Linked DNA regions of Homo sapiens. The protein of the gene in region 1 interacts with the protein of each later gene in a biochemical or structural test. Each region holds a gene or a part of one and is shown on either strand. Other genes may lie near its edges.

Evidence for each region.
Region 2: the proteins of HSH2D (region 1) and MET form a complex in vitro, tested with the Homo sapiens proteins (one large-scale study listed by BioGRID and IntAct).
Region 3: the proteins of HSH2D (region 1) and GAB1 form a complex in vitro, tested with the Homo sapiens proteins (one large-scale study listed by BioGRID and IntAct).
Region 4: the proteins of HSH2D (region 1) and ERBB4 form a complex in vitro, tested with the Homo sapiens proteins (one large-scale study listed by BioGRID).

What each region holds. Positions count from the first base shown.
Region 1 is NC_000019.10:16,153,136-16,156,908, reverse strand, and holds part of HSH2D (hematopoietic SH2 domain-containing protein), read right to left. Parts: coding exon 3,701-3,773; intron 2,511-3,700; coding exon 2,418-2,510; coding exon of another isoform or gene 2,294-2,417; exon of another isoform or gene 2,247-2,293; intron 1,268-2,246; coding exon of another isoform or gene 1,146-1,267; intron 1-1,145. UniProt on the Homo sapiens protein: May be a modulator of the apoptotic response through its ability to affect mitochondrial stability. Adapter protein involved in tyrosine kinase and CD28 signaling. Seems to affect CD28-mediated activation of the RE/AP element of the interleukin-2 promoter.
Region 2 is NC_000007.14:116,678,047-116,682,624, forward strand, and holds part of MET (hepatocyte growth factor receptor isoform b preproprotein), read left to right. Parts: intron 1-4,578. UniProt on the Homo sapiens protein: Receptor tyrosine kinase that transduces signals from the extracellular matrix into the cytoplasm by binding to hepatocyte growth factor/HGF ligand. Regulates many physiological processes including proliferation, scattering, morphogenesis and survival.
Region 3 is NC_000004.12:143,412,738-143,417,315, forward strand, and holds part of GAB1 (GRB2-associated-binding protein 1), read left to right. Parts: intron 1-2,739; coding exon 2,740-3,034; intron 3,035-4,578. UniProt on the Homo sapiens protein: Adapter protein that plays a role in intracellular signaling cascades triggered by activated receptor-type kinases. Plays a role in FGFR1 signaling. Probably involved in signaling by the epidermal growth factor receptor (EGFR) and the insulin receptor (INSR).
Region 4 is NC_000002.12:211,377,500-211,381,370, reverse strand, and holds part of ERBB4 (receptor tyrosine-protein kinase erbB-4 isoform JM-a/CYT-1 precursor), read left to right. Parts: 3' UTR 1-3,871. UniProt on the Homo sapiens protein: Tyrosine-protein kinase that plays an essential role as cell surface receptor for neuregulins and EGF family members and regulates development of the heart, the central nervous system and the mammary gland, gene transcription, cell proliferation, differentiation, migration and apoptosis.

The DNA.
Region 1 (3,773 bases):
GTTCAAGCGATTCTCCTGCCTCAGCCTCCCAAGTAGCTAGAACCAAAAGCACACCACCACGCCTGGCTAATTTTTGTATTTTCAGTAGAGACATGGTTTCACCATGTTGGCCCTGGTGGTCTTGAACTCCTTACCTCAGGTGATCCACCCACCTCGGCCTCCCAGAGTGCTGGGATTACAGATGAGAGCCACCGCACCTGGCCTGGCAAACTTCTTTTACAAAGAGTCAGAGAGTAAATATTTCAACTTTGCAGGCTGTACCATCCGTCTCAATTATGTAGCTCTGCTGTTGTAGCGGATGCCAGAGGTCACACGTGAACCAATGAGCGTGCCTGGGTTCTAATATAGCTTTATTGATAAACATGGAAATATGAATTTTATCTGATTTTCACAGGTTACAAAATACTATCTTTACAAAAATGTGGGGCCAGGTGTGATAGCTCATGCCTGTAATCCCAGTGCTTTGGAAGGCTGAGGCAGGAGGATTTTTTGAGGCCAGGAGTTTGAGACCTGCCTGGGCAATGTAGTGAGACCCCATCTCTACAAATCTTTTTTTTTTTTGAGAGGGTCTTGCTTTGTCACCCAGGCTGGAGTGCAGTGGTGCAATCATGGCTCACTGCAGCCTCGACCTCCCAGGCTCAAGCAATCCTCCCACCTCAGCCCCCAGAGTAGCTGACTACAGGCGTGCGCCACCATGCCTGGCTAATTTTTTTATTTTTTGTGGAGACGGGCTTGCTGTGTTGCCCAGGCTGGTCTCAAAGTCCTGGCCTCAAGCAATCCTCTCCTCTCAGCCTCCCAAAGCACTGGGAATACAGGTGTGAGCCACTACGCAGACCAAATATCCATGTTTCTTTCCACACCTGGGCTCTCATTTTTGTCCCTCCCACCTTGACACTGTCCTCCACCCCCACCTCACTTCCTCCTTCTTTCCATCTCCACCAGTGCCCAGGAAAGCCCCTTCTGCAGCCAGTAGCCACAGGAAACATTTAAAACCACCAGTTCCGGCCAGGTGTGGTAGCTCACGCCTATAATCCCAGCACTTTGGGAGGCCGAGGTGAGCGGATCATGAGGTCAGGGGTTTGAGACCAGTCTGGCCAACATGGTGAAACCCCGTCTCTACTAAAAATACAAAAATTAGCACGCACCTGTAGTCCCAGCTACTCAGGAGGCTGAGGCAGGAGAATCGCTTGAACCTGGGAGGCGGAGGTTGCAGCGAGCCTAGACTGTGCCATTCCACTCCAGCTTGGTCGACAAAGCAAGACTCCGTCTCAAAAAAAAAAAAAAAAAAAGTCCTCCCATGCATACACTCTCCTTTGGCTCCTCCCTGGTGCAACTGGACTAGAATCCCAGCTCCTCACCTTGGCTCCAAGGCCCTGCACTATTGGCCCTTCCTGACCCTGGGGCTTCAACTTCTGACAATCTCTCTCTCACTAACCCCAATCCATCTATATGCTGGCTTTTTTTGTTCTGTTTTCCAAACACACCAAGCCCCAGGACTTTTGCAAGTGCCATTCCCGCTGCCTGGAATGTCCTCCCTGTGTCTGTGTGTATGACTGGCTCCTCCTCACCTTGCAGATCTCAGCTATAAGCCACCTCCTCTAGGAAGCCTTCCCTGACTGCCTTCCCCCACTTGCACCCCCCACCTCCACTGATGTCCATCACACCAGCCTGTTTCATTTGTACCACTGTCATAACTTCCCCTGCTGGGCAGGGGGCTTGGAGAGCACTTAGACTTCAACCTAGGGGTGCCTAAAGGTCTCCCAAACCCCAAGATGCTGTGATACATTCATTCATCTACTCCACAGATTCATTAGTTAAGCACCTTCAATATGGCAGGTCCTTTCAGAGGGGTGGGAGAAGCAAAGGCAAACAAGCCAGATGGAGTCTCCAGTCTCTCAGAGCTCACAGTCTGACTGGAAAGGCAGCCAGGGAGCATGTAAACCCATAAGTAAATAGGATTTTGAGGAACACTTTTGGGAAGTCCGCTGCAGTGAATAAACAGGGTAATGTGAAGGAGAATCCAGAAGGTGTTGCTTTAGGTCTGGGGCCTGGGGAAGGAGGCACTTGAAGGAGAAATGAATGAAGACATGGGAAATCTAGGGGCAGGGCACACAGTTTGTGCAAAGGACCTGAGGTGGGGCCGGCACACGCAGAGACCCCGAGGCTAGCTTGGTGTGTCTGAACAACAGACGGTATGGCAGCAGGGCTGGCGCTGGGTAGGTGACAGGCAGAAAGAGGACCTCAGATTGTAGTTTGAATTTTAATCTCGGTGTTGCAAAAGCACTGGAAAGGTTTAAAGCACCAAGCTGTAGGATCGCATTCTCATTCTAGAAGGAGCCTCCTCTGGAAGCTGTTGACCACCTCCACTCCTGCCCCTCAGCCAGGTGGGAGGTGCCAGCCTCCTGTCATATACATACCTCCTCAGGGGCAGACACCGGGCAGGCAGCTTCCTCGGCCACTGCGTTGGAGTAGAGGAAGAGATCCTCGTAATCCACGTTTGCGGGATCCTTCTGCAGGGCGGAAGGGGCCTGTAGCTCAGCACTAGGGAGGGGGAAAGGTCCTGCACGGACCCTGGAAGGCAGGTCTCAGGGACCATCCCTTGAATAGCAGTTTCTTAGTACCTAGGCCACGCCCACTAAGCGTTATAAGAAAATATGCCCCACCCACAGCCATTTCTTAGGGATTGGGACACACCCACTGAGCCTTCTAAAGAAAGATGCCCCGCCCATAGCACGTTCTTGGGAGCTAGGCCACACCCACTGAGCCTTCTAAGGAAAGATGCCCCGCCCACAACAGTTTCTTGGGCGCTAGGTCAGGCCCACTGAGTCCTATAAGGAAAGATGCCCCACCCACAGCAGTTTCTTGGGAGCTAGGCCACACCCACTGAGCCTTCTAAGGAAAGATGCCCCACCTACCACAATTTCTTGGGAGCTAGGCCAGGCACACCAAGCCCTATAAGGAAAGATGCCCTGCCCACAGCAGTTTCTTGGGGACTAGGCAACACCCACTGAGCCTTCTAAGGAAAGATGCCCCGCCCACAGCAGTTTATTGGGAGCTAGGCCACACCCACTGAGCCTTCTAAGGAGAGATAACCCCCCTCAGCAGTTTCTTAGGGGCTAGGCCACGCCCACTGGGCCTTCTAAGGAAACATGCCCTGCCCACAGCAGTTTATTGGGAGCCAGGCCACCCACTGAGCCTTCTAAGGAAAGCGTATTGGGAGCCAGGCCACGCCCACCGAGCTTCTAAGGAAAGATGCTCCACCCACAGCAGTTTATTGGGAGCCAGGCCACACCCACTGAGCCTTCTAAGGAAAGATGCTCCACCCACAGCAGTTTATTGGGAGCCAGGCCACACCCACTGAGCCTTCTAAGGAAAGCGTATTGGGAGCCAGGCCACGCCCACCGAGCCTTCTAAGGAAAGATGTCATTCCTTCAGATGAGCCAAGATTATACCTGGCACATGAACCCTTATAAAAAATCAGCCTGTTGACATGGGCCTGGAGGGCGGAGCCATGGGGAAGCAGGAACCACAACGGAGACCGCTGTGGGGGGCAGAGGGACTACTGGGGTGGGGCCGGAGGGGCCAAGGACCATGAGAGTGACAGAATCAAGAGGAGCTGATGGGGGCGTGGGAAACAAAGGGGTCTGGGGGGCTTGGCCCCAAGGAAATGGCTGTGAACCTTGTGGGTCCCCGCCCTCACCTGCCTGCAGGGCTGTGTCAGCAGCTCCCTGCGCGGCTCAATTGGCTTCTGCTGGTGGAAGGTGACCAGGGCG
Region 2 (4,578 bases), on another chromosome or scaffold:
CCTGCCATTGAAATTCAAAACATGCACTGCCCTCCTGGTTTCCAGTGCCCTTTAAAAGCAATCAGATCAGTGTTAAAATCTATTTTTCCAAAGGAATAAAAGCTCACAGGTTGTGCACTAATTTGTTTCCTTTAATCCTAAAATCTCAGTGAAATGCCCAAGCTAGCAGCCCTCCAGAAGGCCACTGTGTTAGAAAGGGAGATTATGTACTGTATTTCTTCCTACTATTTTAAATGCAAATATAATAATATATCATGAAACAGTGCACATACAGTATACATATTAAGATCAGTGGTCTATTCCTGTTTTGAAATGGTCTCCTACTCCTTAATAGTTGGAATTCTGAGGCAGCACCTAGACTCTCAGGTCCAATTTGAAAATGTATGTTTTTTTTTAAAAAAGAATGACTTGGGGAATAACTGTTTGATAAGACCGTGGAAGATTTCTAATTTTTAATATTTTATTAAAAATGTAAAGAAAGACATTCAAAGCTGAGACCTTTGAAATAATATGGTCTTTGCAAGTCAGAGAAAAAGAGAAGTGGTAAATTTATTAGAGATAGGTTGCCTCCTTTGAGGCCTAATCATGTGGGAAAGGAAAACCCAGCCAAGGTTTGGGTCCATAAGACAATTCAACCTAGCTTTAAAAATAGGTTTTGGCTTTGCTTGGGACCAGCATTGGGACCAGAGTGTATCTAGACCAGCATTTTAGCTATTAAATTTTAAACCTAGGGGTCTTTTAAGGGAAATTTAATCCATGTGTCTTTGATTCACTAAATCTTAAATCATTACTCACAAACTGTATGTCCCTCTAAGCTCTTTGATGTCCAAGAGATCTCTAAAATTGTGTAAGGCCTTTTTGTTCCAGAAAAAAATAGGAAGTTGGTTTTTGCTAAGCGTCAATAAACAGCATCCTCAAAAATCTGATTAGGTCTAAAATCTTGCAACCATGACAGTATGGATGTTTGAATGATGCAATGTGAAAATTTTAAGCACTTTTTAAAGTCCTTGTTTACCAGTAATACTCAGTTGTAATCCTTACTAACCCCAAGGAAATTATTTTGACACATTTCCTCTCTGTTTTGTAATATAAATACAAAGCCCAAATATTCATCATTTTATTCTGGCACATAGTAGGTACTCAGTAAGTATTTTGTAGAGTGTTGAATGACTCTTTCTTCTGCCCAGAAACTTCTAGCTAATGTCAGTTCTTCTATTCAATATTGATATCCATCTGTCATACCTTGGAATAAGATCTATTCTAAGTCAGTGACCTTGTTCGACAAATTTTTAAAATAAGCCATCTAACTAAATATATGACATTTATTGAAATTCATTTTGCACCATGAAGCAACTGCCTTGCAAAGAGTGCTGAAAATAGGAAGGAATTTCTAGACTAATTTGATTAAATATTCAGTTGTTGCCATATGCTTTCTGAAAATTGATTTTCCCCCTTTTACTATTCCTGTCATCCTTCCTCCCACCTTGACATGCTTACTGATTGAAAGCTATGCACAGAAAAAGGGCAGGTCGCTTGTATGTATAAGCAAGAGCAGCAAGTCCAAACAGGCTTAGAAAACGTAATGCTATAATCACGAGTTGTCATAATATAGGAGAGGGGAGAGAGGAATACTCAGCAATAAGAGTGGTGTTGGGTATTGCTCCAAATTACATGGATGACACATCTTTGAACTCTATTGTGTCGGGGGAAAACACCTTCTTGCTGTAGTTAGATTTCCTGTTTGTGAATGTGTATTTTCTGGTAACCAGACTTCCTATATGAATTTGACATAGCTTTAAGTGCATTTCAAATGACATGATTAAAGAATGGCTGCTTTGGAGACAGCAGCTCCTTCTCTCTTAAAGAAATAAACTATCATGCTAAAATATAGGCATTGAGATCTTTCTTGATACCATATTGTGAATTTCTAATGGCTCATCACATTTTTATCCTCAGAAAACCTTTCCTGGTGAAAAGCATGCTGTTTTAGTATCACATTTGGGGTGATGGAATTGGCAATTTCTTATATCTTGAGGGGGCGGGGGGGTAAAAGGAAAATTGTGTTAATAGGGTCTTAAAATAGAGATTCTCTTAGGTTAACCTGAAGATTTACTAAATACATTATCATTACAGCTTGTTTTGACATTTAATTGTAGATGGCACTGTATCAGCACTGACTTATTTATACAGCTTTGTTTAGACATGCCTAATTTTTATTTCATTGGTGGAACCAAACCATCAGTAATAAATCATATATCAGTGTTTTTGTACACATTCGTATTTACATGACTTTTAAAATTCCAATGTAAAGGTCTCACAACTTGAAAAATGAATGAATGCCTGAGTATTTGAACAGTTGGGAAAATGTAGTTCAATTTAAGAAAGATTTTTTATGACAATTCTTATGCCATATATAGAAAATAGATAATAAAGGAGAAGGCCTGGAGGTTTAGATGGGATATTGGATCAATGAGCAAAGGAAGGGGAAAGGTGGGCGGGATATGCTGAAGGGTCATGGGCTTGAGTGCACCCTAAGTCATAAAGAGGGTGTCCCATTAAGAATCAGGCTGCCTGAATTCTAAGTAGGAAAGAGGCAGGTCAAAATGGTGTATAGGCCAGGCACAGTGGCTCACGCTTGTAATCCCAGCACTTTAGGAGGCCAAGGTGGGTGGATGGCTTGAGCTCAGGAGTTTGAGACCAGCCTGGGCAACATAGCAAAACCCCCCTCTTAAAAAAATTACAAAAAGTAGCTGGACATGGTGGCGCACACTTGCAGTCCCAGCTACTCAGGAGGCTGAGGTGGGAGGATCACCTGAGCCTGGGAGGCCAAGGCTGTAGTGAGCCGAGATCATACCACTGCACTCCAGCATGGGTGACAAAGAGAGACCCTGTCTCAGAAAAAGTGGGGGAGGGAGGGTATGGAATAAAGTAAAGCTCATGGGAAAATGGTACCTTTACCATTTTCCCACCTTGGGAAATGGTGGGAAAATTTAGACATTGCTTTACAAAGTCTAAATTTCTGCCAACTTGTGTTACATGTGGTTTGATTCTGGAGAAAGATAGACTATCATCTATCCAGTCCTAAATTGGGCCTCTTAGTCTGTCCTCCCCTCAGTTACCAGGAAGAATAGCAGGAATATGTCACAGAAGCAGAGAAAGCTTTTATTCTGAGTGTCAGAGGCATGTTCTAAGCACTCTGTTATCTACTCCCAGGCACTCTAAATGAAATTCCATTTTCTCTGAGGAAATCAAAATATAAAAAGAAAACTCAGGCAAATTTATAAAGGTTTTACACCATTTTCATGACTGAAATATTCTAGCATATCTAGCTCATTATAATCTATAAATTCCTGTTGGGACCAAAAGTTATGGCCCTAAAACCTGTTATCTGTAATCCTTTTCCACTGGGATATTGTCTCTGGGGATATATATTAGCTTTCCTTGAGGATACTACCTTGAAACCATTTCTTTGGTCCTTGACTATACAAAGTTCATACTAGCATGGATGTAGGAATTGTATTTTTCTATTCTAAATACGAATTTAGACAGTGATATAAAGATTCAAGGAAAGCTTCTATCAAGGCCTGCCTTCACTACTTGTCTTTTGGCTCCTCTGAGGGTCTTAGGTGAGCCACTTTCATCTGATTCTGCCCTCACTTCAGGCAGAATTCATATGGCTCCAGCCAATGGCTACACTGTCCAAAGTGAGACTGTGGTCTCACAACCATCTGGTTAATACAAAGACAGCAAGCCAATATGATCACTTAGGACCTAGGCAAACCTTTGGGCTTAAAATATTACCTTAGCTATTGTTGTTTTTAATGAGTATCAAATAGTATGATATTTGTAATTTGTATTATGTAAAGAAGTAACCAAAGCAGAGATTGTTGACAAAAAAAAAAACTTCCTCCTAACATAAATGAATATGCATTTTGGACTTTTCAAAAATTCCCTTTCTGTCTTGTCAAAATTAAGATATTTCTAAATTTTATTTCGGTCTCACTAACACATACTTGGATTATTGTTCATTGAAATCTGTACGTCAAGGCCCAGTGATTTTAAACATTCTTTTGGTCTTCAAAGAACTTACCAAAAAAAAATTGTTCTTTAAATCACCAGAAAAGTGCAGATAAAATCCCAGACAGTTTCATTAATGACAATGAAAGGTGACAGCCCTTGAATCTATGTCATAAGTTGATTAATTACTTTCCAAACATTATTAAAGATATTAGACGAATAACTTAGACTGGTATCCAGGATCAAGGTTCCTTCATAATCCCTAAATGGGTTTTAATTTTCAGAGTTAGATGATCATTATATGTGATTTATTTCTTTAACATCTTTAGACTGTTGGCTTTATTGAAAAGAGAGGAGAGTATCTGTTTCAATGTGTTTTCTTTTCCCTGAAGTTATTCCTTGCAGAATTCAATAAAACCGGTTTTGAAATAAAAATAATTAAATGCTGGCATTTTCTGTTAATAAGGGCCCATAGACCTGATGAATTATATAAACATTACAAGGAATTTACCACTGAGTTCATAATTATGTAACCATTTAATGCCCAAACCTGCCTACTGA
Region 3 (4,578 bases), on another chromosome or scaffold:
AATATAATGTATTTAGGGGAAAACATGTGCAAAGTCCCTGAGGCAGGTAAGAGTTTAGCCTCCTATAAACCCTATTATTGGAGGGGGAAAAGTGACAGTTGATGGAAATTGAGAGAAAAAAGACAGGAAACTGTATTTAAAAGATGAACTATACAAGCATAGCAATATGGTACTATTTATTAATAGTATAGGGGCAAATGACACTCTATACAGTGCAACAGCCTCTGAGAGTCTCCTGAAGTGCAGTATAGAAATGGATGCTTACAATACTTAGTCTGAATCATTGGGGAATGGATTATGTTTGGTGAAGTATGTAGTAAAGCATTTTAGAAAGATTTGCGTGCAAGACAATAAAGTTTTAAAAAGTCATTTCTGTATTTAAAGATGAAGCTTCACTATCTGGAGAAATCACTTACTGAATGATATGATTTCTTGAGGGCCCTGCATAAATAACATCATATTTTATATTCTTTTGCTTTACTTCTGCATTACTTTTTAAAGCTTACTGCTTGAGAGGGAAGTATCCATAGAGGGATAATTTTACTAAGAGATGATATTTATTTATTTTGCAGTAAGTAGATGCATATTCAATGAATGGATTTTTATAGTCCAGAAAACAGTGCTAAAATCATGTGAATCCAACACTTTATGACTTTTCAATATTATCTAAAACATCTATAGGACTCTACCCTGCCTTCCCTGGACACAAATTATATACTTATTCCTTTGAGCTGCGTGAAGAATGAGAAGTTAATTTAAAATGTTGATGATTAAAGACCTATATAATGTTTTTAGGCCTTTGTGATCTCTGGTCATCCTCTTGTTAAAGGATTGCCTAAATTTTTCTGTAGAGGAATGCTTGTTCATGTAGCAATACCTCTGCAGACATTTTGCCTGGGTTGCTGTAGTCTCAAGTATTTTCATGTATGTTAAATATTTTTTTCCACAATTAGTCAATTCTTTGAAGGTAGGAATAATGAATTATATACTTGTTTTTCTTCCCACAAGTAGCAAAGGGAATGTTTTATTCCACTGGGGGTTTTCGAGTCCTTCCACTTCCCAGAGCATCCCCACCACCCCGCTGCCCTTTTTTTTTTTTTTTTTTTTTTTTGAGGAGGAGTCTTCTTCTGTCCAGGCTGGAGCGCAGTGATCTCAGCTCACTGCAACTGCCAACTCCGGGTTCAAGCGATTCTCCTGCCTCAGCCTCCTAAGTAGCTGGGATTACAGGAACCTGCCACCACACCCAGCTAATTTTTGTATTTTTTAGTAGAGACGGGGTTTCACCATGTTGGCCAGGCTGGTCTCGAACTCCTGACCTCAGGTGATCTGCCCACCTCGGCCTCCCAATGTGCTGGGATTACAGGCATGAGCCACTGCACCCAGGCCCAGAGTGTCCTCTTGAGGTAGTCTTACCTAGAATGTTGAATCTGGAGCAGAGAATGTTTCTTAGTAAATGACTGAGACTTGCTAAAATAGGCCTCTTTTCTGTCTAGCTGCCTCCCTGAGGAAGAATTTCAAAGAGGAGTAAGGTGTAAGTTTGTTTCCAGGCACACATGTTGGGGTTAAAGGCTGATAAGGAAGGCTGTTTGTCATTTGGTTCTGCTTTTATTATTTGGTGACCATAGATTTAGGGAGGGTGATAGTAAAATAATTTTTTAGGCTTCTCTAGGTATAGTATTAAACTCAAAATTTACCAGAACTTGTGGAGGGGGTATGTGGTGAGTGTATTACAGATTGCCCATGTATGTTTGTTGGGAAGAGGAGGGGAAATATTAGAAAGAGTTAAATCCCATACTCAAGAATACAGGTCTTACTCGTATAGTCTTTGAACAACAGGCTGTGTGGCTAAAAGAGAGACACAATCAATTGCTTCCCAGTCAAGAAGCCAGAAAAGCTTCAAAACCTTTCCCCCTCCCTACTCCTTGCCACCGCACCTAAAAAAAAGAGAAATCTTTTAAGTGTTTAAAATCTGTAGGAGTCTTATGAAGAAGCAGCTTTATGTGTATTCTTTATGGCATAATATTAATGCATGAAAATCTGTTGCTTTTTTAAAAATTGTGGCAAAATATACATAACATAAAATTTATCATTTTAGCTATTTTTAATATACAATTCACTAGCATTAAGTATTAATACATTCACAGCACCATTGCAACCATGGCCACCATCATCTCCAGAACTTGATCTTCTTCAACTCAAACTCTAGGCCCATTAAATACTGTAATAACTCTCCATTTCCCACCCCTCCCCCTCCGCAGGGCCTGACAAATACCATTCTGCTTTCTGTCTGTATGAATTTGACTACTTGAACTACCTCATATAAGTGGAATCATACAATATTTGTCTTTTTATGACTGGCTTATTTCACTTAGCATAATGTCCAGCTTCATTCTTTTGCGTATGGATTTCTAGTTTTCCTAACACCATTTGTTGAAACCATGACTTTTTCATATTTAGTAAAAACTGAATCCTCCTTGATGTATTGCCTCAATATTATATAGTAGGAGATTTAATCGAACATACTGAATATATATATACATTATTAAGTTAATTGAGTTATGAGTAAACGTTGCTTTTCAGAGTGGCAGATTATCCTGTGGTAAAAACACACACACAAACACACACATATTGTGACTTTCTCTAAACAATGCATTTGTAAAATCAGTTTGATAAATGTGCATCTTCTTGAAAACATTATCTCAAGTTAATACTGAATGGATATTTTTGTTTTGTTTCTAGGCATGGAAGAGGAGATGGTTCGTGTTACGCAGTGGCCGTTTAACTGGAGATCCAGATGTTTTGGAATATTACAAAAATGATCATGCCAAGAAGCCTATTCGTATTATTGATTTAAATTTATGTCAACAAGTAGATGCTGGATTGACATTTAACAAAAAAGAGTTTGAAAACAGCTACATTTTTGATATCAACACTATTGACCGGATTTTCTACTTGGTAGCAGACAGCGAGGAGGAGATGAATAAGTGGGTTCGTTGTATTTGTGACATCTGTGGGTTTAATCCAACAGAAGAAGGTAAGTTCAAGATATTACTATTCAACTTGAATTCTTCTTTTCTGCTACATTTCCAGAAATGTCATACAATTCTTTGTTATTTTAGTTACACAATATAATGTTTTATTTTTATAATAGGAACTTGACATTTGGAAAAAGCACTGAATCCTTTAATTAGTTTGGGGAGAAGCTGTTTACCAGTTTTAGAGCGACAGACTTAGACATATTGGGGCAGTTTTTAAATATCCTGAAGTAAAAGGTGACAAGAAGACATTTTAAGAACATTTATTGAATTCCAATATAAATATTCAGTTTAACCATATAACACTGTTGATATTTTACTATTTTTCACCTATTAAAAAATAGCACATTTGGCCGGGCGCGGTGGCTCATGCCTGCAATCCCAGCACTCTGGGAGGCCGAGGCGGGTGGATCACGAGGTCAGGAGATCAAGACCATCCTGGCTAACACAGTGAAACCCTGTCTCTACTAAAAATACAAAAAAAAATTAGCCGGGCTTGGTGGCAGGCACCTGTGGTCCCAGCTACTCCAGAGGCTGAGGCAGGAGAATGGTGTGAACCCGAGAGGTGGAGCTTACAGTGAGCCGAGATCGCGCCACTGCACTCCAGCCTTGGCGACAGAGCGAGACTCCGTCTCAAAAAAAAAGCACTTTTATGTAGCTCAACCCAATTCTTTAGGTGCTATTTAAAAATATATTTTAAAACTATATTAGATTATGGCCGGGCACAGTGGCTCACACCTATAATCCCTGCACTTTGGGAGACTGAGGCAGATGGGTCACTTGAGGTAAGGAGTTCTTCAAGACCAGCCTGGCCAACATGGTGAAATTCCATCTCTACTAAAAATACAAAAATTATCCAGGCATGGTGGCACACGCCTGTAGTTCCAGCTACCCAGGAGGCTGAGGCAGGAGAATCGCTTGAACCCAGGAGGCGGAGGCTACAGTGAGCCACAATTGCACCATTCCACTCCAGCCTGGGCGACAGAGCAAGATGCCGTCTCAAAAAACTATATTAGATTATCCCATTTATGCCTAGTGTTCCATTATTGGAACGCTAAGCATGTGGGAGTTATTTATATCCCACTGCTCAAGGTCATCGCCAAGGTCTGATTGCAAACATTCAAAAAATTGCAACCTCAAGCATAAATAGGTTATGAAGTTAGGAAATAGCCAAGGTAATTATCATTACCTATGAAATGCAAGTGAGAATCAGTCACAAAACACAATGAACAAGTACCAAACAAATGAATTACTTAGCACAGGTCCTACAAGGAACATGGAAGAAGAAAGAGGGGCTCAAGGTTTGGGTAAGAGGTAGTGAAGGAAAGCTTCTGAAAGGAAAATAAATTGCAAAATGTAGGCTTTTGAAAGAAACAGTATTTCTGTGTAAATGAAAGGAGGGACGCAGAACCCTCCAGGCTTAGGGACTTAGGAAAGAACAGACCCAGAGAAGGAATCGAATTTTACTTGACTGGGGCAGTAAGGCTCTGAGTGAAAAAGGCCCAGGGACAGTTGCTTACAAATCTTGAATGAGGGACTGAGA
Region 4 (3,871 bases), on another chromosome or scaffold:
CATAAACTGGTCTAGGAGAATATTGCATCACTGACTAATTAGCCTATCTAGAGTCTAACTTCACCATTAAACCAAAAGCAGATGGTGGTCCTTGGCCAAGAATATTGGAGACATTGGAGTTGGTTTTTTTCTAAGCTATAAGAAGTGAGGCGAGCTGAAAAAGTATGGTAGAGCAGGAGAAGGGTTTGTGAGATTCCTTCTAGTGAAGTTCACCCTCAAACTTTTCAGGGGTAAAGACACAGAGTGATTCAGGGGCCACAATCTAATAGCTCAGGGCTCTCCTATCCATTCAGAGAAGTCTCTAGGAAAAGGGATCTCATATCAGTACTTATGAAAAATTGAATATAAGCCTCCCTTTCTAAATAAATCTGCATCGAGTCATCACAGCCCTCTTTTTGGATACTATACCTTGATTTTTTTTTTCTGATTTACAATATGCATATGGTTTCTACTGGGCTATAGAAAGCAGAATCACTCATTTTGGAGAAGGAAAAAATGAATAGTTAAAACAAACTTTTAACTGTTAAGGTAACAGAAATGTATTTAGTGAATGTCTCTTTCCTCCTAAGAACACAAGACTTCTACATGTTGGGTAATACCTAGAGATGCATGTAGGAATAATCCAAAATGACCCAAATGCTTTATAATAGCACCACTTTATAATTCTTTTGAATGATTTCTGTAGTATATAATTGACTTCAGTTGTTTGAGTGTTTTTTGTTTTATTTTTGTCCCCCCTGGGAAAACATATTTCAGCATGTATAAGAGGGAGAAAAAAAGTTTCATTCCTTCCAGAGAATAACTTATTTAGTCCAGTAGGGTAGAATTTTAAAATGTCAGTTAAAGTCTTCAAAGTGCTTGGGGGGATATCAGATTCCAGAGGCCAATTGTAGCAATTGAAATTTGCAGAATCAATTATGTAAATCTGAGACAAATTAGTATTAAAATTACACGGAGTATATTTTTTAAATCACCCAACTTTGTAGATTATACCTATTTTGGGCAGGTATGGAAAAATTTTGCAGTTAAATGATTGCCTAAAGAAAGTGGTAAACAGGTGAGGAAAGATGGCCTCTGATCTAGGATAGATCCAGAACCACAAAGCATCTGCACCACAAAAGGTGTTAGACTACCAAGCAGCTCCTGGTTTTCTGCATAGTATTAGTAGCACAGCTTAGGATGAGAATCCTTTCTCCAGTAACATTCTTAAAATAGCATGAAAAACAACGCAAAACTCAAATTTCTATTAAAACACACAAACTAAAATCAAGTGATTCTTTTTTGTAGATTAGGGAGAAGGACTGAATATCTAATTTAAGAGAAGGAATAGTGTTTAAGTGTTATAGTGTGTGAGCTAATACCTTCTAAAGGAAAGACATGGCATGAAGATTGTGCATACTTACAATGCTAAGGAAAAATCAAGAAAAGGACTGTGTGAGGCTCTGCTACTAGATGAAGTTGGAAGGACTATTAATGTGCTTCTTGAAGTATCAAAAATGAAAAGAAAATTAAAATTGTTTAAGCCTGACAGGGAAGGATGTAAATACAAGTTTTTCTAGAGCTCTCTAACCTTTATTTCAAAACTGGAATTATTCATCCATCTGTAATTGTTGATAATTTAACTAGTATATGTAGTTCATAAGGTAATAGAAAAGGTGATCATGAAAGCATGTATATAACTGGACAGAACCACGATAATGCTATAAGATGTAGATTTAGTTAGGTTATCAGATGTTAAATGATTTTAATATTATTAAATAAATCAAACTAGAAAACTAACCACAAGTATAATGTAACAAAGTTAAATGCAGGATATAAAAATGTAGGATGGATTTTGCATAGTAAAAAGATAAGTTTGCCATTTAAAATTGTTGTTTGTTGGGTTTAGCTGAAAGTAGGCATATATGGTTCCACTTGGGAAAACTTGCTTTAAAGCATTACAATGAACAATTTTTTCTCATTCTCTTATTCCTTTATCACTTTTTAAATGTAAAGAAAATTGTATTTATTTATTTTTTTAAATAAACACCACCTTGCAGAATTTAATAGGCAAACATGTTACATATGACTAAGTAAGGGTCTTCAAGATGAAGTAAAGAAAATGTAAATGTTCTATTACCTTATGCAGAGACAAAAAAAAAAAGGAGTGGTGTCATTTAGCTAGCAAACAAACAAAATACAGTTAATTGGTGATATGTCCTTTCTTTTCTCACTATGCCCTCTTGCCTCCAAAAATGACAACAAAGAATCACAATTTTTCTGATAAATAAATGCTAAACCAAGCGTTTCAAACTATTGCATTGCCATTCTTTTGGACTTTAGTTATTAGAATGATGATTGTTATAGGGCAAATGAGAAATCCATGTGCATCAGCTTCTAGTTGTTAAAAAAACCAGATAAATTAACTTCTACTGTATACTGTGGGCAGAGGATCCTAGAGCTGATCCTACAACATCAGCTTCTAGTTGTTAAAAAAAAAAAAAGAAACAGATAAATTAACTTCTACTGTATATACTGTGGGCAGAGGATCTTACTGTGCCTCTGTTTGTGTACATGGACTTCGGTGTGTATCAGTTTGAAGGACAGCCTTGCCCCATGTAAACATATAAATGCAGATTGGTATCGCCTGGTTGCTATTTGCTTAAGAACAAATATTATACAGATGAGATCAGGCATAATTTTAAAAGATCATTATCAGTGGAGACCTCATTATTACTGATATTACAATGGGGCCAGTTTTTATACTTCTGGGTAGAATTAATAAAATTTTTCTGATCCCAGAGATCTGAGTTCTCTCTGCAGTTGGAAACAAGAAGCTGTTGTGGGCATTGTGTCGGGCCAGGGGCCCTTGTGTTTGTGTGGGCAAATATCTTTTAGCAGTGTGAGCTGCTTTTTTCTTTTCATTAAAAGTCTCTCTAAAATAATAGAAATTTCAGATACTCGGTTCAAGTCTCACTGATTTTGTAGAGGTCCAAAAATGTAGGATCTGTCACTTTTGCAGGCCCCTGCCTCACCTAATTCCTGGCCAGGTGACATTTTGGGCAGAAGTAAATGCTTCTATAGTCACAAGCTAAAATGACTCTAAGCCCCAATTTCACGGGGGGTATTCACATGCTTCCTCTGGAAAATACTCTTTGACAGTCAGCTTTGCAAGTAAGTGATTACCTTGTTAGGAATCAAAGAAAAATGTATTTCTCTCTGACCTTTAGAGGAAAATAGAATCCTTCCCTTTTTTGCCCATTGACACAACTGGCACTGCTCTCTTCCCTTTCTACCACCCTGGTTCAAAGTAGTCCCCCGATGCTGTCCTGTTCCTTTCTTAAGCCATAGTGGATCTCTGAGATCCTACACCCCACTTTGTGAAACACTGACTTCATCTTTGCCCTCGAATGCCTGATTTTTTCATAAGAGATTCTAGCAATTTGGACACTGTTTAAGTGAACTATCAAACTACCGCATAGAGAATATTTAAGCTATTAAAATTATGGTTTCCCATGAAGATCAATTCTCTGTGTCCTTCCCTATAGGAATTTGAGACGAGTTAGCCCTGTGATGAATCTTGAAACTCACATATGTCCACATACACTTGGTAGAACTTCGATTTAATCTTTACATAAAAGCTGTACATATAACCAAGAAGTTATTTTTGCCAGTAAATTAACTTATTTGCTTTATTCATCTTATTTGGTTCCTAATCGTAAATATTTTGTAGCTGCTGTAAATTTTTTTCTCCCAAATGAGGAGTCTTATTATCATAAAGGTAAAGGCTATTCAGCTTTGATAACCACCTGCAATTCTTTTTTGGATCATTCATCCATCTAACAAATACATAATGAGGACAGTTCATGTTAATGAAAATCCATGTTGTTTA